2 separate regions of the Homo sapiens genome follow, and region 1 is linked to region 2. The links come from fine-mapping of genetic effects on gene expression. A gene starts in region 2. The other region holds a variant in brackets. All regions are shown on one strand. Distances are between the middles of the regions.

Evidence for each region.
Region 1: its variant is fine-mapped to the expression of FAM20A in atrial appendage (GTEx, PIP above 0.99). The same link has a PIP of 0.9 or more in lung.

What each region holds. Positions count from the first base shown.
Region 1 is chr17:68,573,596-68,585,648 of GRCh38, reverse strand. All of the region lies in intron 1 of FAM20A (FAM20A golgi associated secretory pathway pseudokinase), which reads left to right. Among named protein-coding and RNA genes, the nearest start is that of FAM20A, 22 kb to the left of the region's middle. The variant C/A (reference allele first, on the strand shown) is at 5,351.
Region 2 is chr17:68,595,525-68,607,577 of GRCh38, reverse strand. It overlaps FAM20A (FAM20A golgi associated secretory pathway pseudokinase), which reads left to right and starts at 6,211. Exons shown (of 11, transcript NM_017565.4): 1 at 6,211-7,315. The coding sequence starts at 6,912.

The sequences.
Region 1 (12,053 bases), 22 kb after region 2:
AACCTGGATTTTTTCAGCAGGGCTTTTCACTGACATTGAGTGGCAGTGCATTTAGGATAAAACTTTCAGAAACACTTTGAGTGCAGTTTTTCAGGGTTGTCATTCAGTACAGAAAAATAACACGTTTTGCCCATGTACCCTAGAACTTAAAGTATAATTTAAAAAAAGAAAAATTTACATAAAACCTAAAAAAAAAATAAATAAAGCCATGGTATTGGTGGAAAAACAAAAAAGAATGTGTTTGCACGGATGAAGAGAGTGCAATAATACACAATGAAGACTCGGAAGTGTGGGAGGCAGAGGGGTTGAATAGAGGGATATTAATAAACATAGTGTTTGTTATTTGAAAAAAAAAAGAAATAGATTTACCAATTAACTGAACTTAGAGGTAGGAACAAAAGGCTCTTTCTGAAGTCATGGAGTCAAACAGGATAGGCAAGTGAACTCAAAGCCACTGACCTCTGTCTACAGGGAAGCCACAGGTCTAAGGGCCAGCCTAGATTCCCTTCAGACAATACCTTTGAATCTGCTGTGACAGGCGAGCCAGCGGGTAATCAATACCTCAAAGCCACATGCCATGGAATGTGGCTGCAAAATGTTTGGCTGGAAAAATACTCCAAGAGACTGTAACCAAACACCTACCTTAGGTATTAAAAAACATCAATAAAGCAACCATTGAATGCCTAACTTTATCAGCGTAACTCACCAGTGGCCTCTCTGGGTTTAACTCACTGCAAAATGTACACCCCAAGTAACTGAATGAGACGACATTCTGTTCTGTTATTAGCTATAAAATCATTAAAAGGCAGGGGAAGTCAGCCAAATATGATGAGCTAGGATTTATAGCAGTTGGTCCGCAGCAGCTCTTTTTGGCAGTTGTGAAGACAGTGGTCTGTTAAGGCTGCTTGCAGTTTATGATATTAAAGCCATTTTATTTGCATATAAGAAAATGCTTCTTCCTCCCTCTCCTGGCAGGAGATGCTATGCCCAACTCATCCAGAAGTATTATTTACTCATTAAGGCATAAATTAAGCTGATGAACCAGAATGGTCAGGCTCTACTGAAGATGTGAAGATGATCAGCAGGCTGCTTCTTGTCCTTTGCGTCTACTTTCAAAACTGCCCACTCAGAGAGAACTTTCCTGTCCTGCTGACCCACAGGGGTCCCAGATGTTGTCCTTACCAAGCCCTGTTTTATTTTCAGCTGGGCTCTTAACACCACTTAATGCCTTTTTGTGTATTGATTTGCTTAGTGTATAGCCTCATTAGATCTTAAGCTTTTTGTGTTTGGGTTTTTTTTTTGTTTTGTTTTGTTTTGTTTTGTTTTGTTTTTGAGATGGAGTCTCACTCTGCCACCCAGGCTGGAATACAGTGGCACCATCTCAGCTCACTGCAACCTCCACCTCCTGGATTCAAGTGATTCTCCTGCCTCAGCCTCCCAAGTAGCTGGGATTACAGGCGTGTGCCACCACACCTGGCTAATTTTTGTATTTTTAGTAGAGGCAGGGTTTCACCGTGTTGGTCACGCTAGTCTCAAACTCCTGGCCTCAAGTGATCCACCTGCCTCGTCCTCCCAAAGTGCTGAGAATACAGGCGTGAGCCACCACACCCAGCCAGATCTTAAACTCTTCAAGGGTTGAATTGGTTTGAGTGGTGGCTCTATTTTGCATTCCCTAGGATGGCCCTTGAGGTAGGCCGAATAATGGCTCCCCAAATGATATTCATGTTCTAATCCCCAGAACCTGTGACTATCATCTTTTTTTTGAGATGGAGTCTCACTCTGTCACCCAGGCTGGTGTGCGGTGGCACGATCTCCACCTCCTGGTTCACGCCATTCTCCTGCCTCAGCCTCCCAAGTAGCTGGGACTACAGGCACGCACCACCACGCCCGGCTAACTTTTTCTGTTTTTAGTAGAGACAGGGTTTCACTGTGTCTCGATCTCCTGACCTCATGATCTGCCCGCCTTGGCCTCCCAAAGTGCTGCAATTACAGGCATGAGCCACCGCAACCAGCCAACTATCATCTTATGTGGTTAAAAAAAACAGGTCTTTACAGATATAATTAAGACTCTTGAGATGAGGAGATCATTCTGACTTATCCAGTGACCCCTAAGTTCCATGTCAAGTGTCCTTATATGAGGAATGCAGAAGGAGATTAGACACAGACGGAAGAGGAGAAGACAACGTGACCACAAAGGCCGAGAGTAGAGTGAGGTGGTCACAGGTTGAGGAACACCAATAGCCACCAGAAGACAGAAACAGCAAAGAAGGGGCTTTCTCCTAGAGTCCCCAGAAGGAGCACAGTCCTATTGCTACCTTGATTTCAAACTCTCAGACTCCAGAACTGAGAGAAGGAATTTTTTGTTATTTACGCCACTAAGTTTGTGGTAGTTTGTTAGGGCCCCAACAGAAAACTAATAGAAAGATGGAGGCTTCTTTGTGTCTTCATCATTGTAACCCAGGTATCTAAAATGCTGTTTGTATATAGTAGGCACTCAACAAATATTTGGTAAATGAATGGTTAAGAGAAACTTGGCAGTCAGGCAACTCTGGGTTTAAATCCTGGCACTAATCTCAGCACTTTCGGAGGCCGAGGTGGGCGGATCACGAGGTCAGGAGTTCAAGACCAGCCTGGCCAACATGGTGAAACCCTGTCTCTACTAAAAATACAAAAAAAAAAAAATCAGCTGGGCCTGGTGGTGTGTGCCTGTAATCCCAGCTACTCGGGAGGCTAAGGTAGGAGAATTGCTTGAACCAGAACCTGGGAGACGGAGGTTGCAGTGAGCCTAGATCATGCCACTACACTCCATCCAGCCTGGGCTACAGAGCGAGACTCTGTCTCAAAAAAAAAAAAAAAAAAAAAAAAAAATTAATCCTGGCTCTTCCACATAAGCGCTATGCAGGGCCAAGGCTCATTTCCTCCAAGCCTCAGTTTCCTGGTCTATAAAGTGGGATGTAATCTGGACCCCAAGAGGTGGCTGGGAAGATGGAGTCAGATCATGTACAGAACACACTGAGCAGGGTGCCTGGTTTCCTACAGCACTGATCCTCAAGCAGATAAAGGACCACTGCTAGTTGATTATGCTTTAATATTCCTTACAGGTTATTTGATACTTATCGATATGCAGCCTTATCCATTTATGTTTGATGTTTGGGTGGATGATGATGATGAAATGGCTTTTGTGGCCTCCTGTTGTCAGGGAAAGGCACCAGTGCTTCCAGCCCAGCCATCGCCCTCACTTGACTTAGCTGCCTCTCATGCTTCTAGCGAGAGAGAAAACACACATATTGATCTCTCCTCCATCACTTCGACGTCAATTACCTAATGCTTGCAAATGGGGAGAAAACACAGAACGCAATCAATCTACTTATTTTGGAAACTCTGCCCCCCTTCCCCTCCTACATGCACATACCCTTCTCAGTGCAAACTGCTGAGCCCATGTTTCTCAATGACTTTCCTTGAAGTGACAGGAATTCTGCTGATTCTAGGAACAACTCTTTTTCTTTTACTAAAGCATTTATTAAACTGGTTAAACAGGCTAATCTCTGCTCCCTGGAGACCTTCCCTTCAAACCGTGCCTCTGGTGAGTCGGTGACACTTTGATGGCAGGTGACACTTGTGCGGCACTTACTCTATGTTAAGCACAGTGCTGACCACTTCACCCACCACACATTTACTCCCTGCAACAACCCCATAAGCAGGTACAGTCCTTATCCTCATTTTCAGATGAAGAAAGTGGCTCAGACAGAGTATGTTACACAAGAAACTGGATTTTGGCTGGGCACAGTGGCTCCCACCTGTAATCCCAGCACTTTGGGAGGCCAAAGCAGGCAGATCACGAGGCCAGGAGATCGAGACCATCCTGGCCAACATGGTGAAACCCTGTCTCTACTAAAAATACAAAAATTAGCCGGGCATGGTGGTGCACACCTGTAGTCCCAGCTACTCAGGAGGCTGAGGCAAGACAATCGCTTAAACCCGGGAGGCGGAGGCTGCAGTGAGCAGAGATCACACCACTGAACTCCAGCCTGGGCAACAGAGTGAGACTCTGTCAAAAAAAAAAAAAAGGAAAAAAGAAAGAGAGAGAGAGGAAAGAAAGAAAGAAAAGAAAAGAAAGAAAGAGAAAGAAAGGAGAGAAAGAGAAAGAAGAAAGAAAGAAAAAGAAAGAAAGAAAGAAAGAAAGAAAGGAAAGAAAGAAAAGAAAAAAAGAAAAGAAAGAAAGAAAAGAGAAAAAGAAAGAAAGAAAGAAAGAAAGAAAGAAAGAAAGAAAGAAAGAAAGAAAGAAAGAAAGAAAGAAAAACTGCATTTCGGAGATACCTTTTCAACTCCAGAGCCGAAACTCAACACTGAGTTTAACTTTATTTCATGTCTGAGCCTGAGTCCTGGAAACCAATTTGAGAAGAGATTTGTGTCCAGGAGGCTTAGTGAGCCATGCTGTCACAGTACACCCCTTTGCATCAGGGCCCAGAGATTATCGAGGCAGAATTACTCCCAGTACCCTGCTCTGGAAGTATAGGTTGCTTTCTCTTTCTGGAGGGCAAGTTGGCAATAAGCATCAGACGTTTTAAAAGTTATCCAACTCATCCCTCCTTATGCACCATAGTTTTTTATTTTTATACAAAAGTTTTTTGGTCTTCCTAATCAGGGGGAAAAATCATTATTGGTGGAGTATCTTACACATATTCAGATGTCATACTCGGGTGTCATCGCAACGCTGCCTTGTACTAGCAGTGCCACCTTGGAGGTGTCATTTTTGCTGCCTATATCTGGTTCCCATATGTTTACAATGGTGGTAATAATAATAATACTGACCTTATGAGGAGTTTCTGTGGGGGTGAAATGAGTTAAAAGAGCAAAGTGCTTAAAACTGCCTGGCCCCATGTGAGTGCCACATAAGAGGTAGTTAGCTATTTTCCTCATTCACACTGTAGGCCCATTTTGGGACACTGGTTCCTCTTGAGTCTGATTTTTGCTCACCAAGGCAGAAGTCCAGGTGGTTTCCACCCTGGGACAATCCATGATATGCCCCTTCTCATTCAAGTCCCTTCCAGTTCGGGGCCACTCCAGCTCAGAAGCCCCATGCCCCTCTCTGGGCGGGTTTTACTTAAGTGCTGAGCCAGGGCTGTGGTTCTATGAGGTCAGGATAAGGTTAAGGACACAGTTAGCTGGAGTGGAAACAAGAGGTGCATTGCAACATAGCATAAAACCAGCTCCCAGAAGAGGAAGCAATTGTATTTTAACGAGAAAGGAATGAGTTTTTGTCGGGAAACCAGCCCATTTCGGGAAACCAGCCCATTTCGCAAAAATCTCAGTAAAATCTTGGTACAGTCATTGCTTTCTCAACAGCAAA[C/A]AGTTAATCAGGTTCTGTGTCTCCCCCCACCCACCACCACCATGATCTTTAAGAAGGCTCCAAGGAAATTCAAATTAAATTCTTGACAAAGCATTCGTTTCTCTGCAGCCACTGTGGAAGAGCAGAAAAAGCTCAGGTCACAACCCTGGCTTTTATTCCTCCTTTCCACTTATTATGTTGTTACTTCCACTTTGTGGACCTTAGTTTCTTTAAGAGCTTGAGGAGAGGAGAATAAGACAATAAATGGAAATAACCTAAAATGCCTTTATAATGAGATTTATGCAAATGCAAACTATTAATAGTATTAAATCAAAAGACACATCCTATGTTCAATAAGTACCAAGAGGCTGTGGCAGAGGCATTTTCTGCTCACCAAAGTCCACTTGTTCTCCCGTGTGTTCCAGCCCCCAGCAGTTAGTTGGGGTCATGTGACTAGTCCTGGACAATGGGTTATCAGTTGATGTGATCTGCGTCGCTTCCCAAAGCATTGAAGAGCCAGCACTTCATCTTCCAGTTCCTCTCTTTTCTTGCCCTGATGACTGTGAAGACCATTTGTTGGGATCTTGGTGTGTTCATCAAGCTGGGTCCCTGAGTCAGTGTGTGGAGCAGAATCCCTACTGACCTTCACGAGACAAGTAGCATGAGTGAGAAATAAGCTCTTGTTTTGAAAAGCCACTCCGATTTCAGGATTAAGCTGTTGCTCTAACAGAACCTACCCTACTCTCACTCAATAGGTAAATGAATTCAGATGGATTTTGCTCTACAAACTCAAAAATCAAAGTAACATAGCATTGGTTTATTTTTCAAAAGTCCAATCACTTTGGACTCTAGGCCCTCTTTTCTGTTTGGTTGGCTAGAAATTTAGTCTGAGTCATCACTGGAGCTCCTTACCCCAAGCCCCTCATGTTGGGTCAATGTCCTTAGGGTGTCTGGGAGCACATTTGAGGAGGACCCATAGTCCATGTTCCATCACCTGGTCTCGTGCAGGTGGGTGGCACTGTTGGTTCTGCATCAAGTTCAAGCACAGGATTATTGGCTGAGACTCGGTTTCTGGTGCCTAAAATGAGTCTTTCTCTGCACACACCTAACCGTTCCCCAGCACATTGGATCACCTCCAAGAAACAGGCCAGACACAGACCCCAGTCAACTCTCCTTTCCTAACCTTGGAGTCTCTTCATGCTTCCCCAAAATTCTGTGCTTCTTTATGCACTTTCACATTCTCTGTTAAATCCCCCTGCCTAGCAAATGCCTTCACTGAGCCTAGACATGTTTTTTTTTTTTTTTTGAAACAGAGTCTCGCTCTGTCACCAGGCTGGAGTGCAGTGGCGCGATCTCTGCTCATTGCAACCTCTGCCTCCCGGGTTCAAACAATTCTTCTACCTCAGCCTCCTGAATAGCTGGGACTACAGGCACCTGCCACCACGCCCAGTAATTTTTTTTTTTTTTTTTTTTTTTTTTTTGGTATTTTTAGTAGAGACAGGGTTTCACCATGTTCACCAGGATGGTCTCGATCTCTTGACCTTGTGATCCGCCTGCCTCGGCCTCCCAAAGTGCTGGGATTACAGGCATGAGCCACTGCACCTGGCCGAGCCTAGACATTTTTAAAAATCCAAGGAAGGAGTGAGAGAAGCCTGGCTACCTGTCTAAACTTCCCCTTGGTCCTGGATCCTAAAAACACTCTGAGGCAAGGAACACAAAGGCCCAGCTATCTTCTGAGAACAGGGGTGGGTAAAATTCCGGAAGAACAAAAAACACATTAATATCTCAATAAATTATCCTACCACATGGGTGACTGGTCATGCTGAGGAGGAAAGGAGGCCAACATTTGCTATCATTCTCTTGGTTTGCAAATCAGGTGGAAAAATAATACCACGCAAATTAGCACTAGCTCACAGGCCAAGGACTTGAAAGAATTTAATCTGAGTGAGCCACAAGGAAATTTGCTTATGAACCATGAAAATATGTGCCCCAGCCTAACCCCGTATTGTACCCACCTACATGCAGATTCCCCAACATTCAAATCCATCTCTCTTTCAAATGCCCATGCCTGTATGATAGGCAGTAAGGCAGAATTCAGACACTTTTGAAAATAAATATATTCTGGTAAACCTTTGATTATTAGAGGACCCAGGGGGTGGATTTTTAAAGCTCCTGCTTTGTCTTGGTTCTCTCAGAGTATTGCCTTTACACCACGTTTCTTCTTTTTGCATTCAGGAAAATGGTAGAGGAAAGAGAGGACACCTGTCTATCCAATGTCACTTGCTAATAGTGTGCGTGTGTGTGTGTGTGTGTGGTGTGTGAAATATATATTTATTTATTTTAGGATTACACAGTTGGAAGATTGAAAAGCACCACAATGATGACATTTAAATAAATCAATATTGCATCTTTTGCAACTAACACGTGTGTTAGTGTTTTATCAATATGCTTGTTAGGTTGGTAGAAGTCTGACAACTAAATGCTTGCTGACTCAAATTGGTTTTCTTTTTTTAAACAATTAAGTAACATTTTTAATTTTTGGCTGTGCAGAAGCTATAGAAGGAGTGGAGAGGCTCTGAGGAAGGCTTTTACGCGTCTATGGAAAATATTAAATTACACCGAGTGCAAAATCCATCAGAGCAATTTTCAGGCCATCATCAGAGGATTAAGTGCTTTATTTGCTCATTATTCTATGGCTCTAGCCCAGGATTTCTAACTCAGCATTACTGACATTTGGGGCCAGATCATTTTCTCTTGTGCAGAGCTGTCCTTTGCATTGGAGAATGTTTACAACAGCCCTCAGCACTCTCCCCACCAACTATGACAACCAAATATGTCTCCAAACATTGCCAAATGTCCCCTGAGGGGTAAAATCGCCCCCAGTGGCGAACCACTGGTCTACAGCAGGGAGGCAACAGTTCTGCAGAAAGGGAGATTCTGCAGCTGCAAGGCCCCTGTGCTGCGTGAATCATCACATCACAATTAGGTTGAGGAGCTCCGCAGTCCAGCTTTAATATTTCATGTTTCCCAAAATGTGTCATGTACCATGCAGAATAGAGGGGAATTGGTGTGTGCTACGTAAGGAAATGGTTTAAGAGATGTCCTCTGAGCAGGAGCCGTCATGGCAGGACTTCTGCAAGCCTTGACTGTCTTTCTGCACATGGTCACTCCCCTCAGAGTGGTCACCGTTGGCAGCTCTTTCTAAGTTTATTTGTGTGGAGCTAGATGTTTTGGATCTTAGCTCTATAGCCAAAACAAGAATCTGGGAAACTTGGCCCGGATAGAAGGCATCTGCTAGTTCCCTGACTGGACTCTGGGGACTCTTAGATGAGGGATCATTCTTTCATTCTTCTCCAGGGTGTCTGAAAGTTGTTGTGAGGGTAGATAAGCAGACTTTTTACTATAGACAGAGTCCCAGCTCCTAGAATGTCCCTCCTGGCCTGCCCTAGGCAACTAGCTCAGCCTGGGGCCATTTTGACTCAGAGCTGTTAGGCTATTCAAAATGAACAGGGCTGAGCAAAATCAACAGGGCAAGTCTAGCCACTTTGATAAAACCATTTAAAACAATCATATTTTGATTCCTAATTTTTTCTCAGATTTGCTCATCAGTTAAGCAAGTCGTTTTGTCCCTAGGTCCCCAACTACATGTAACTAACGTTTTCTGTAGTACCCACCACTAAGTGTCTGAAAGGTGTCTACAGCGAGGATCTCCCTGCCCAGACTGAGCACCCTCACAGCATTTATGGACTTACAGGTCTCTCTCCCTGGGGAGGAGGCTGGGACAGTCAGAAGGGAGCCTTGGGCTCAGGGCTGCAGCATGAGGAGCCAGGAGGTGCCAGATGGACCATGATGCAGTCAGCACGTAGGGTCATGATGAAGAGCTTGGCCTAGGAAGCCAGTCGGCCAGGTCCAAATCACTGCACTGTGCCTGCCACTCACCAGGCAGGTGACCTTGAGCTAGCTCAAGTCAGTCTCCTCATCTATAAAATGGGCTAACAATGGACCTGTCTTATGGGGCTGTTGTGAAGAGTCATGAGCCAGCACATGTGAAGTCTTCATAAAAGGTGCTGGCAGAGAGCCATGGCTCCAGAAATGGTGACAATTATTACATGTGAGGTGTGGGGGATTGAAGCAAAGAGTGCTTGAGGCAGGTATGGGGGCAGGGTCTAGAGAGCCAGAGAGGACCATGGCACTACGAATTTGGAGCTGGCTGAGCACTGGGCTTTTGTACTCTTATGGGAGCTTGTTCCATTGGCTGGCCAGACCCATTTAAAGGGCTCAGCATGCAGCCAAGTTTCAGAATTCGGGATGAGATGAAGAAGCAAGAACCTCTCTCCAGCCTAACACCATCCACTTCCCCAGGGTTAGCTCCTGGGCAAGGGAAAGGCCATTCTTAGGGGGCGCCCTTTGGACTTGGTTCTCAGAAACAGCAGTGCCTAAACATCACGCCCTGCCCGGTGGCAGCTGTAACTGCCAATGGCTGATTATGTGTGTGTGTGTGTGTGTGTGTGTGTGTGTGTGTGTGTGTATAATATAAAATATACAATATATAAAATATAAAATATATATAATATATAAAATATATAATATATAAAATATAAAATATATAATATATAATATATATAATATAAAATATAAAAATATAATATATAAATATAAAATATATATAAAATATAATATTCTATATTATATTTTATATATAATATAGAATATATTATATATAATGTATAAAATATAGAATATATTATATAATATATAAAATATATATTATATAATATATAAAATATATATTATATAATATATAAAATATATAATATCTAATATCTATAATATATAATATATAAAATATATTATATATAATATATAAAATATATAATATATAAAATATATAATATATATAAAGTGAAGACATATATATATAAAATATATATATATATGTAAAGTAAAGTGAACCTGTGTTGGCCAGGTTGGTCTTGAACTCTTGGCCTCAGGCAATCCTCCTGCCTTGGACTCTCAAAGTGCTAAGATTACAGGCATGAGCCACTGTGCCTGGCCTGCTTGTATATTTGTAAAAGCCACCAGAACACATTATTACAAACTGACTGGCCTAAAACAACATAAATTTATTGTCTTACATTTCTGGAGGCCAGAAGTCCAAGCTCAAGATGTATGCAAGGCTGTGTCCCCTCCTGAGGCTCTAGGCGAGAATCCATTTCTTATCTCTTTCAGCTTCTGGTGACTCCAGGAATTTCTTTTTTAAAAAAATATTGATACATAATAGTTGTACCTATCGACTAGTGGCCACCTCATGCCAGTCTCTGCCTCTGTGGTCACATTGCCTCATCCTCTTTTCTCTGTCTTCTTGTCTATGTGTCTGTTTTATAAGGGTTCTTGTAATTACATGTAGGGCCCACCCAAATAACCCAGGATCATCTCTCCATCTCAAGATTCTTACTTTAATCATATCTGCCAGCCCATCTGGACACATAGGGTATGTACAAGCCCAGAGATTAAGACGCAGATCTCTTTGGGGGCACCATTATTCAGCCTACCCCAGGGACCATCCTAGGGAATGCCAAATAGAGCTCTTGACTTCACCTTGGTAAGCAGAACTCAGGTAACTGGGAAATTAAGCAGAAGTTGGAAATAATTCTTCACAGTATTCCTTCCCCTTTGTAAAGGATAAAGTTACCAGTACTGAGTCCCAGAAGTCACAGTAACAATAACTCACATGATGTTACGGTTTGAATGCTTGTCTTCTCCAAAATTCATGTTAAAACTTAATCTCCAATGTGGCAATGTTGAGAAGTGGGGTCCTTAAGAGGTGATTGAGTTATGAGGGCTCTACTGTCATGAATGGATTAACTCATTTATGGATCCATGGATTAACAGATTAACGGGTTATCGTGGGAGTGGGTCTCATGGTGCTATAAGAAGAGGAAAGGAAACCGGAGCTAGCACACTCAGCCCCCTCGCCATGTGATGCCCTGCACCACCTCAGAACTCTGCAGAGGATCGCTTAGGCCTAGGAGTTTGAGACCAGCCTGGGCAACATAGGGAGATCCTGTCTCTATAAAAATAAACAAAATTAGCCGGGCATGGTGGCACACGCCTGTGGTCCCAGTTACTTGGGAGGCTGAGGTGGGAGGATCACTTGGGCCTAGAAGGTTGAGGCTGCAATGAGCCATGATAGCTCCACTGCAGTACAGCCTGAGTGACAGAGTGAGACCCTGTCTCAAAAAAAAGAACTCTAGAGAGAGTTCCCACCACCAAGAAGGGTCTCATCAGATATGCCCCTCAACCTTGGACTTCCCAGCCTCTAAAACTGTAAGAAATAAATGTGGTCAGGTGTGGTGGCTCACACCTGTAATCCTAGCACTTTGGGAGGCTGAGGCAGGCGGATCACCTGAGGTCAGAAGTTCAAGACCAGCCTGGCCAACATGGTGAAACTCTGTGTCTACTAAAAATACCAAAAAAATTAGCTGGGCTGGGCATGGTGGCTGGCACCTGTATTCCCAGCTACTTGGGAGGCTGAATCACTTCAACCCAGGAGGCAGAGGTTGCAGTGAGCCAAGATCACACCACTGCACTCCAGCTTGGGCGACAAGAGCTTAACTCTGTTGAAAGAAAAAAAAAGAGAAAAGAAAGAAAGAAAAGAAAGGAAGAAAGGAAGAAAGAAAGGAGGGAAGGAGGGAGGGAAGGAAGGAAGAAAAGAGAGAGAAAG
Region 2 (12,053 bases):
AGATCACACTACATACCCATCATTTGTAAAGAACAGGCACTTATTTGTTTATTTGTGTTCCCCAGTAGCAATGATGGGGAAACACGTACTCTCTGTCTCTCTCTCTTTAGCGCCTTAGAACCTTATGACACAAGTTGGATGGCCAATGTTAGACAATGGATCCTACCTAGCCTATTTGGAATCAAATCTGTGACTTTGCTCTCATTAGCACTGTCCTTTCAACCAGTGATTCCCAAACTTCAATGTGTGTCAGAATCTTATAAGCTGGTAAGAATCAGCTTATTGAAAATGTACATTCCTGGCCCCACCTCCAAAAAATACTAGAACTATGGTGTGGCCCTGGAATTTGCATTTTTATAAGCACATCAGGTACTTCTGATCCACAGGCTGCACTTTGAGAAATCTCTGGCTTATGCTGAGGCATTATGTGTTGGTCACGATTAGAAAATTTTGGACTTTCTACCTCAGAATAAGGTGTTGAGTGCAATACTAAATCAGTTTCAGTTTCTTAAGTTCACTCCATTCTAGGTCTTCCATTTATAGTAATTTCAATTGCATCTCTTGCTGATTACTGAGACAGCTAGCAGGTAAAGGTAACATTCCTCACATGCATCTATACTATAATAAAAACTGTGAGGGACATAGATGTCTACATTTAGTTATTTCTTTATGTGTCTCTTACTTATTGGTTTTTCAATAGGATCAAGGCAATTTCCATTGATGTTCTAAGTAAACATCTACTGGGGCCAGGCACAGTGGCTCATGTCTGTAATCCCAACACTTTGGGAGGCTGAAACAGGCAGATAGCTTGAGCTCAGGAGTTGGAAACCAGCCTGAGCAACATGGTGAAATCCCATCTCTACCAAAAAAAAAAAAATTAGCCAGGCCTGATGGCATGAGCCTGTAGTCCCAGCTACTCAGGAGGCTGACAGGTGGGAGGATCACTTGAGGTCAGGAGTTCAAGGCTGCCATGAGCCAGATCACACTCTGCCACCCTGCACACCAGCCTGGATGACAGAGAAAAACCCTGTCTAAAGAAAAAAAAAACCATAACGGATGTTTAACTTAACACTTATGTAGATGTTCTAACTTAACACTTATCTTGAGCTAGATTATATACATTTATGTTCTTATTTTAAGTGCTCTTTTCCAAACCACTTCCCACCTCCATGTATGAACACACATAAACCCACAAACATCATTTATTCTGCAGGAATTTGTTAATTCTCATTTGCATGCCTTGCTGTGTCTAAGATCCTATGAAGACAGGAAAATAAAAAAGAAAACATGTTACCCTTGAACTCATGGAGTTATAGTCTAGTATAGAAAACTGCCTACACAAACAAAAAACAACTAGTCAAGTTCTAAGCAACACGGGAACATGGGCAAGATAAAAATAGAGTCTAACCTTCACAGATAGAGGAACTTGGTGTTTAAATGTTGACTCTATTGTTTTCATGATTTAACTCCTGCAAGTAGAGAGCTTGATATTTAGCTAGACTGAAAGGAAACACAACTGCCCTTTGCATTTGCTCCTCTTAATGCATGCAATGGCACAGATTGCTAATCTGCTCTGTGTACTACCTCATACTTTTTTCCCATTGGCTTGTGAGTACAGGTATAGCTGGACTCTCTGATGATCACAAGACTCTTGAAGGCAGGAAGGAATTGTGTCATATATTTCTTTATGTCTCCTACAGGGTCCAAAGCTATGTCATCTTATTGTAAACAATAATTTAGCCCCTACTGTATACTAGGCCATATGCGAGATTCTACAGTTGTAGAGATGGCCAATATCTCTGCCTTCACTCAGCAAACATTTCTTGAGCATTTCTCAAATGATAGGCCCCATCCTCAGAGCTCTGTGTACATATATAAGTAGCATTCTCCCTCTACACTCAGGAGTAGTGCTCCAGTGAAGATGGCAGACATGTGTACTGTGTAAATTTGCAATGGCTGCTGTAACAAAGTGCCACAAGCTGGGTGGCTTAAGCAACAGAAATTTATTGTCTCACAGTTCTAGAATTATAAATCCAAGGTCAAGGTGTCAGTAGAGTTGGACTCTTCTGAGGGCTGTGAGGGACAAATTTGTTCCATGCCTCTTACCTAGCTTCTTGTGTTTGCTGGCAGTCTTTGGTATTCCTTGGCTTATAGAAGAATTGCCCAATCTGTCTTTTATCTTCATAGGGCATTCTCCCTGTATGCATGTCTCTGTGTCCCAATTTCTCCTTTTTATAAGGACACAAGTCATATTGCATTAAGGGTCCACTCTACACTAGTACGCTATCAGCTTAACTAATTATTTCTACAACAACCCTATTTCCAAATAAGGTAACGTCCTGAAGTATTGGAGGTTAGGATTTCAACAAGTGAATTTGAGAGCAGGATATAGTCAACCCATAACACATACTAAAAAGGAAACCCAACATGGCCAACGTTGTAATAGGGGAACATATGAGGAGCTGTGGGGGCACATGAGAGCACAAGGCACTGAGTTTAATGGGTATGAAGACAAGCATCAGAGAAAAATTGGACAAGTGGCCAAAGCTTGGGTGGACTAATGGGTGTTTTCCAGGTGGGGAAAGGAGAAAGAGCTTTCGGTTAAAGACACATCTGTGAGAGGTTGTGTGGGGAAAAGCAAGAGAGATCAGATTGTTACTGTGTCTGTGTAGAAAGAAGTAGACATAGGAGACTCCATTTTGTTATGTACTAAGAAAAATTCTTCTGCCTTGAGATTCTGTGACCTTACCCCCAACCCCGTGCTCTCTGAAACATGTGCTGTGTCAACTCAGAGTTGAATGGATTAAGGGCGGTGCAAGATGTGGTTTGTTAAACAGATGCTTGAAGGCAGCATGCTCCTTAAGAGTCATCACCACTTCCTAATCTCAAGTACCCAGGGACACAAAAACTGCGGAAGGCCGCAGGGACCTCTGCCTAGGAAAGCCAGGTATTGTCCAAGGTTTCTCCCCATGTGAGAGTCTGAAATATGGCCTCGTGGGAAGGGAAAGACCTGACCGTCCCCCAGCCCGACACCCGTAAAGGGTCTGTGCTGAGGAGGATTAGTAAAAGAGGAAGGAATGTCTCTTGCAGTTGAGACAAGAGGAAGGCATCTGTCTCCTGCCTGTCCCTGGGCAATGGAATGTCTCGGTATAAAACCCGATTGTATGCTCCATCTACTGAGATAGGGAAAAACCGCCTTAGGGCTGGAGGTGGGACCTGCAGGCAGCAATACTGCTTTGTAAAGCATTGAGATGTTTATGTGTATGCATATCTAAAAGCACAGCACTTAATCCTTTACATTGTCTATGATGCAAAGACCTTTGTTAACGTGTTTGTCTGCTGACCCTCTCCCCACAATTGTCTTGTGACCCTGACACATCCCCCTCTTCGAGAAACACCCACAAATGATCAATAAATACTAAGGGAACTCAGAGGCTGGGGGGATCCTCCATATGCTGAATGCTGGTTCCCCGGGTCCCCTTATTTCTTTCTCTATACTTTGTCTCTGTGTCTTTTTCTTTCCTAAGTCTCTCGTTCCACCTTATGAGAAACACCCACAGGTGTGGAGGGGCAACCCACCCCTACAAGGTTGGAGCACTTGGGAATTGCAGAAAGTCTTGTGGGGTGAAGACGAAAGAGGGGGCATATAAAGAAGAAAGGAGGTAGAAGCCAGACCACGAAGAGCTGTGTCACAATGAGTGACCTAATCCAGCAACAAGGAGAAGCTCAGGGGGTTTTCAGGAGGAGAATATCCTGGTTGCCTCTGCATACTAGAAGTCTCACTCTGGCAAGAGTGTGTGTGGGCACTGAACTAAGGTACCATGGAAGCAGAGGGACCAGTTAGAAGCCTATTTGCAAGTATGAGCAAGAGATTATGAGGCTCTAGATACATCAAGATCAGTAGAGATGGAAAAGGAGGGAGGGGCTTCCAATGAAAGATTTTAAACAGAATGATGGGTCCCAGCAAACAGCAATTTAGGATACCTTCAGTGTGAACGGAGAGGATGTATGTGAGGCTGGCAAGTAAGCCAGGGCCCAAGACATGGAAGATCGGAGGAGCAGGAGAAGGCTCATTTCTAGGAGGGGTAAAGGTAGATTAGAGGCAAACCTGAGGAAGCCAACATCCTATTGGCCAATCCTACTGGTAGGATTTCCACTCTCCTATCCAGCTTCATTCACACTTAATATCTAACTCCCACATGCAGTTCTGCACTTGACTGTGACCTTTAAAGGGCATGGAAAATATGTTTACATAATTTCCAAGCAAGTTACACTATTGTTCCCTAAATTGGGGCCAGAAAAAAAAGAGTCTACTAAGCGAGTATGACCCCATGGGTTGAGGAGAATTGAAGTCACAAGACCTGCAGTGTCACCACATCCACGTCCTTTGCCAGCCGAGAAAAATGCGCATCAGTTTGCCACACAGTTACTGCAGTTACATCACCACCATTCAATGCCTGACTTCTTCATTCGCTTGCCATGACATCTAATTAAACACATTAGAAGTTGCAACGTCTCTCAGAAATTGGAAATCAGTTAAAATTTAATTCCAGATAAAAAGGAGGAGGTTCTAGAACCCCTCAAAATGCCCACCATCATACCCAGAGGAGTGGAGTAGCTGGGAATAGTACCGTCTTGGGCTTTTTCACTTGGACTGGGCACTCAGGCCACAATGTTATGCCCCTGAAAGCAGGTTCCTTCCTGCTATCTTCCTTTTCCATCCTTTTCTATTTTTGTCCTAGCGATGAGCAGTCTCTAACCAAGCCTAGTGTACTACAGGAACTAATAAGTAATCATAATGATAGCAAACACATATTTCACACTTATTTAGGATGAGTTAGGAGCTCTTCTAAGTAATTTATACATAGTCAAGTGCCACATAACATTTTAGTCAATGCAACAGTGGTCCCATAAGATTACAATACTGTATTTTTACTGTATGTTTCCTATGTTTAGACACACAAGTACTCACCACTGTGTTACAACTCCCTACAGCATTCAGTAGTCGCATGCTGTACAGGTTTGTACCTAGGATCAACAGGCTATGCCATGTAGCCTCCGTGTGTAGTAGGCTGAACCATCTAGGTTTGTGTAAGTACACCCTGATGTTCACACACACAGGAAAATTGCCTAAGGATGCATTTCTCAGACGTGACACATAATTGTACTTCAATTCATTTAAGTCTCATAATAACCTTAGGAGGTAGGTTCCATCATTATCTTCATTTACATTTGAGGAGACTGCAAAGTCCCGAAGAAATCTTACACTGAACCACGGGGAAAAGAACTCTGGTCTGAACCCACAAGTCAAAGTATGTCTGAGGGTTCTCAATTCCAGCAAGGGAAGGGAGGGGGTTAAAGAGTAGAACTAACTTACATGGGAAGCTTTGCTGCCTGGGCAAGCAGCTTCTGGTGGATTTCCTGAAATTCAGCAGGGTGGGGCCGCCTCTCCAATCAGACTTCACTTTACTATACTATGGGGTCATTAAATAGAGGAGCCAGGAGTTCAGGACTCCCTCCCTCTTCTTCAAAAGGAAAACTGGGTGTGGGGAGGGTACATTACCTCACAGAATATTGGAGAAAGCCTAAATGTGTCCTCCAGTGATTCATTTGGGTGGACTACTTTCACACCAAGCTAAACTCAAAAGTTCGGAGTGGGGTCATCAGGGCCCCTCCCTCCCTGAGTGCAAGAAACATTTCCTCTTTTTAAAGTACAGGCAGAGTTGGAATCAAACTCCTTCCAAACAGGAAATCAGCAAGATTCTAGGTAAAACTGATACCTTACTTTTAAAGGTCAAGCTCTTTCCTTCACCAAGAGCGTGTTTCCTGAGCACCTACTATGTGCCAGGCATGTGGTAGGTAGTTGTTATGAATCTTGATGTGCCCTGCGCTCTGCAGGGGGGCGGAGGTGGAAGGGAACACAAAGAAAGAACAGATACCAACACTGCCACCCCCGCCTCCCCCCACCCCCCCCCACACACTCATTTGGCAAAGCTTACAGGAAAAAAAGGGTTTTAGGGGGCTTGTGGTGGTTTTTTTTTCCCTAAAAATAATAGAAATGGTAAAAAGAGGCTTCGGACCCCTCGCGTGAGTCCCTTAAAGTGACTGGATTGAGACCTGGGCAGGGAAAGTGGGAGGCCCGAGCGAGGGGGAGGGCGCAGGCAGTGGGTGGGTGACAAGGTGCAAGGGCAGCGCCGGCTTCGGATCGGGAGTTGGCCGTCAGCTGCGCCAGAGGCAGGTGCCAGCGGAGAGTGGGTGGGGGTGCCGGCGCCAGGCCAGGCTCGGGGAGGCCCCGCGCTACCTCTGCCTCTAGGAGTCCAGGCGCACAGACAAGCTCCCCGGAGCCGCTCCTGCTTCGCCAACTCCCCACTCGCGCCGCCCGTGCCAGCCGCCGGCACTGGCGTCTCCGCCGCCCGCAGGAGGAGTCGCGGGAGCACTAGCAGCCGCCGCCGAGCGACAGCATCCTCAGGAGAGACGCCCCGGGCTTTGCAGCCGGCGGCCTCCGTCCGCCCTCCGCGGTCGCCCCCCGCCCCGTCGCCCGTCCGCCCGCGGTGGCAGCCGGCGCCGGCGCCCCGGGGCCCTTCACCTGCCGCGAGCGTCCGGGCGGGCGGGCGCACGGGAGAAAAGGCGCAAGAAGCGGGCACCCCGGGAACCCCATTCCCTCGGCTCACTCGGCGCGGAGAAGCGACGCCCGCTGACTCCGAGAGCCCCGGTGCTCCGTGCACCTGGTCCCCAAGTTGAGGAGCGACACCCCTCCACAGGGGACTAGCCCGCGCGGGGAGCATTCCGGTCTCACTGACCCCGGCCCACCCGCGGGACTCCAGGCACCTCTTCTGCCCGCACCCCGCGACCCCTCCCGGGACCCCGGAGACAGCCGGCCTGCCCCCGGCGTCCCCCTTGGCCAGCACGCCATGCCGGGGCTGCGCCGGGACCGCCTACTGACTCTGCTGCTGCTGGGCGCGCTGCTCTCCGCCGACCTCTACTTCCACCTCTGGCCCCAAGTACAGCGCCAGCTGCGGCCTCGGGAGCGCCCGCGGGGGTGCCCGTGCACCGGCCGCGCCTCCTCCCTGGCGCGGGACTCGGCCGCAGCTGCCTCGGACCCCGGCACGATCGTGCACAACTTTTCCCGAACCGAGCCCCGGACTGAACCGGCTGGCGGCAGCCACAGCGGGTCGAGCTCCAAGTTGCAGGCCCTCTTCGCCCACCCGCTGTACAACGTCCCGGAGGAGCCGCCTCTCCTGGGAGCCGAGGACTCGCTCCTGGCCAGCCAGGAGGCGCTGCGGTATTACCGGAGGAAGGTGGCCCGCTGGAACAGGTGAGGACCCCGCCCGGGACGCGGGAGAGCGGGCGCTCTGGCCGGGGCCTCCCCGCGCCCCAGTCTCGAGTTTCCTGACGCCCCCGGCCCAGGGCTGCAGCGGCTCCACCCACGGCTCCAGCCCTGGCGCTGGGCTTAGAGTGTGTTCCCCACCCGAACCCCACCAGCTGTTGCAGACCTCACAGTCCAGTCCCGGAGTCAGATAGTACGAGGAAAAAGTTTCTATTGCAGCCGCACAGCGAAGAAACGCTCTCAGCCCCTTCCCCTTGAGCGCCTGGGTCGTCGTTGAGCCCCACTCCTGCTCCCTCGTCCACTCCCGCTCCCTCGTCCGCTCCCAAACCCCACTCTCTGTCCTGATGTGGAGGAAAGCTGCCGCTGGACTTCGGGTTTCCAGAATGAGGCCCCAAACAGGGTGACTCCAGAGCTAGTTGAAATTCAGCACTTAACTGTGCTCTTTGGGTAAACCTGGGCGCCTTCCAGAAAGCATGTTTCTCCCCAAAACCCAGTTCTTTCCCTTTCCTTATTCCTCTGCCCAGTTTCAGAGATCACAAGGGGGTCATCTGAGGCAGGAAGTAAATGGTCAGTTCTCTGCCGCAGCCACCCCATTGTTCACATTTAAAACGCGGCTTGGGCCCATCCAGCAAGTATTAGAACTTGAAGGCACTTTTATCGTCTTGTATGATCCTGGTGATTTGGACTGACTTGGATCTGCGGCTTGATGCTTCCACAGACGAGAAAAAAATCTTTCAGGGAATTTTTTAAACCCAAAGCAAAATACAGAGGAAAAAATATCAAATATATTTAGGATAAAATTAAGAATCTTTCTGGAAAAGGATGGGGGTGTTAGGGAAGGCAGCACGCTCATTACTGAGATCCCTTGCTAGTGGCAGGAAGCCTTCGTATGAGTTAAGGACTCTGTTTTGAAGTACAGAACTTGTCTAAATACCACTCACATGCAGAGTTCACTATCGCACCACACCCATCTCTTTACTTAATACAAGAGATTTCAAAGTAAGATGTCATCGGTGGTTTTATGGTCCCTCCAGAGGATGAGCAGACCATAAATCTCTCTTGAAACTCAGAGCTGGGCCAATTTAACTGTTTGCTCATTATTTTGTAATGCTGAGATTGAAGGGAGAAAAAAAAACCTTCAGAAATTTTTGCAAAGGAATAAGTTGAGTTGTTGGCTGAATCACTGTGGTGAATTTCAGTAGTAACTCTACGGCTCACATTTTATGTTAGAAAGAAAGTGATTCTCAATTCCACGTTAACTGTGTGCAGTAATAAAAGGCAGTTTGAGATTGCTTCTCAGACACTGTCATTTTCAATATTATCTTTATTTCGTCAATAACATGGAAGTCTGGCTTAGTGAACCAGGAAATTTTGCCCTTAGAAAAAGTATCTATATGTCTACTATGGATCTGAGAATGAGAGACTTTGGACAAAGTCACTTGCTTTTGTAAATGTGATCAGCATTCATTTAGTCACATTTCTGTGGTCTTAAACTTCCCGGTGTTACTTTGGACCCGAAGCAAAGTCCAGGGGAATATTATGGCAGAAAAGCAAAAATCTTTCTCACCAAACTGTTCTACAATCAGTTTTAAGCTTGATTTCTACACCATTATGTGTCAACAAAGACAAAAAAAACTCGCAAAAACACACATACTTTCTGACCAGAAATGATCTTGGTCATTTAACAGAAGATCAAGTGGGGGCTGGTGACCTTACTATATTCAGAGATCACAGAGTAGTTTTGTGTGGTTGCTCAAATGTGACATTTTCCCAAGTAAGGTTTGTGGGCCACAACAGGAGGACCCGCTGCACTTATAAATGTTAAAACTGGACCTCAGAGGCAGAGAACACTCTCCTTCCACCCAAACTGGATAGTAAATGTTAACATGAACATATTAATAAGCAGATGTGTTGTTACTTATATCAGGGTTAAAAATGAAACACAAGGCCGGGCAGGGTGGCTCACACCTGTAATCGCAACATTTTGGGAGGCAGAGGCAGAGGGAGGATCACTTGAGCCCAGGAGTTCAAGATGAGCTTGGGCAACATAGTAAGATGTCGTCTCAAAAAACAAACAAAAAAAATAGCCAGTGGTGACACATACCTGTAGTCCTAGTCACTTGAGGGACTGAGACAGAAGGATTGCTTGAGCCCAGAAGGTTGAGGCTGCAGTGAGCCATGACTGTGCCACTGCACTCCAGCTTAGGTGACAGTGAAACCTTGCCTCAGAAAAAAAAAAAAAAAAAACCATACAGAAGATTCATTAGCCAGGGTGAATTTGAGCCACACTCAGAGTTCTATTGTGAAAGGGAGTCACTCATTACCTTAAATGAGAGTGCTCCCTGCCAAATATGAGGATGTAGCAGTGCTGATGAAGACAGGGGGCCTGCCATTATGTGCAGGGTCGAGGACACCCCTAGATCCTAGCAGCAGACAAATAAATAGAATGGACAGCAGAGGAAGAAACAATGAAGGACCTTGCTAATTGTTTTTCTCTTCACAGACAAGCTCTCCTTGTTTGTAGCCCTGCCAATATTTAAAATCTAGTGATTTATAAACATATGAGGGCCAGGCACAGTGGCTCACACTGGTAATCCCAGCACTTTGGGAGGCTGAGGCAGGCAGATCACCTGAGGTCAGGCGTTCAAGACCAAACTGGTCAACATGGTGAAATCCCATCTCTATTAAAAATACAAAAATTAGTTGGGCATGGTGGTGGGCACCTGTAATCCCAGCTACTCAGGAGGCTGCGGCAGAAGAATCACTTGAACCCAGGAGGTGGAAGTTGCAGTCAGCAGAGATCGTGCCACTCTACTCCAGCCTGGGCAACACAGTGAGATTCCATCTCAAAAAAAAAAAATGTGGATGCCTCCATGCCAATACCTAACATGAAGTCCTATCCAAAATAATTGTATCAGCAAACTGTCCACCACACCAGGAGAAGTACAGAGAATAAAATAAGCCAAATCAGTGTTCTTCGCCACTTGCCCACAAGAGACCATTAGTCTGAGTGATTTTTTTTTTTTTTTGTAATTTTGACCATCATACTAATAAGAAATGGTATGAAGTCAGAAAGTATCCTTCCACAATTCAAGCTCATTACCAATAAGAGGTAGGTTATGGTGTGTCTCCCCACCTCCCCACTCACCCACACGTTCCTTTTTGATTTCACACAATGGAAGATGACATTTGTGCAGTTTTGAATGTCTTGGGTTTTTAATTAATATTTGTTCACTGGATGTCAACATTTAGACATGTAGTTAAGTTACAAATGGGAAGATGTGTTGATTTTTAAGGTGGGCTGTCTGTGTGCTATCTGGCCCTGAAGCTTTCTGCAAACCTCCTTCACTCACTGTTCTTCCCTCCCTTCCTTTCTTTTCCCCCCAAAAATGTAACTAAGTGTGGCACAATCCAAGTTAAAAATGTAATTAGGGAAAGTGTTTCTGTCAGGTGGTCAGCTGCTGATCACAGCCAGCCAGCCAACGCCAGGCTCCATCAAGCATGATGACACATTTGGCACCTGTATTGAACAGTGACGAGGAAAGTGCACAGGGAAGAAGGGAAATGAAGTCTTCACTTTCAGGCCATACACTAACAAGCCAGAATTGTGCTGCTCTTAGTCCTTTGCTTGAATAAGTGATGACGCAGGGCAGGCAGGCTTTACCTGGAGCACAGGTGATGGTTCACACTGTTGCTCGCCTTTGCATTCTTAGATACTGAGCTTTGGATTTCTTCTCTGGCCCACAAGCTGCCCAAGTCAGACAACATCTGTCTTTTGACGTGTCAAACTGATCAGCTTGGCCAGTTTTGCCCACATATGATTGGCCTTTTGGCCACATATCTTTGGTCAGTCTCTCTGTAACCCTCTGGTCTCGACAGGCAAGGTCAAACAGGGTCAGCTCTCCCTAATGTAGAAACCCCAGCAGCTATAACACAAATATGAGTTTTTGCTTTTCTTTCTTGACATCTTCCTCAGATGTCAGGAAGGTTATATTGTCTTGCAATTACAGATTCAGCATTTCTTAGGGGTGTGTGTGTGTGTGTGTGTGGTTTCCCACATCAGAAACTCCTGTCTTCTTCACCCCTCCTCCTACCTATTGCTGTCACTGAAAGAAAACCTAGTCCTGGGTCTCTCTTTGAAAATCACCGCAAAGAGACTGGGCAGCTTTTCAAAAATGACAGTTGGTCAAAGGGAGTAAGTTGGCTGAAGTTTTTCTGGGGGATGCTTTGAGAAGATCCAGAAGCCAAGGCAGATAGAGGAGAAGGGTGGAGAAGAAGTCAGGAGAGATGAAAAGGAATTCAGCTAGAAATAAGAATTGCCTCGTCTAGGAGCTTGGGGAAGATAAGCTCCTCCCTGCCCCAGCTCCCCCATGGCATCTGTGGAAGGAAAAATACAATCTCTCCATTCTCACTCCCATCTTTTTATCTCTGTCCTGCTTATTTTGTGCCTGCCCTAGAACGCTCTGAACCTAGATTTCTTGTGAGCAGGCAATTCAACCCGCAGGCTGGATGAAAGTCCAGGTTCTTACTCATGGATGGTGGCCATTTGCTTCTCTCCCAGAGTCAACAGGGCCTTGGCCCCTTGTTAGATTCTCCCGCCAACAATGCTAAGCTAAGACAGGAAGTGGCCTCCTGTGATTTGGAAATGGACCTCAACCACGGCCCGTGTGTGGTTAGCAGAGAGAGTGGGGAGCCTGACTTCCATTTCCCATTTCTCCCAATTAGA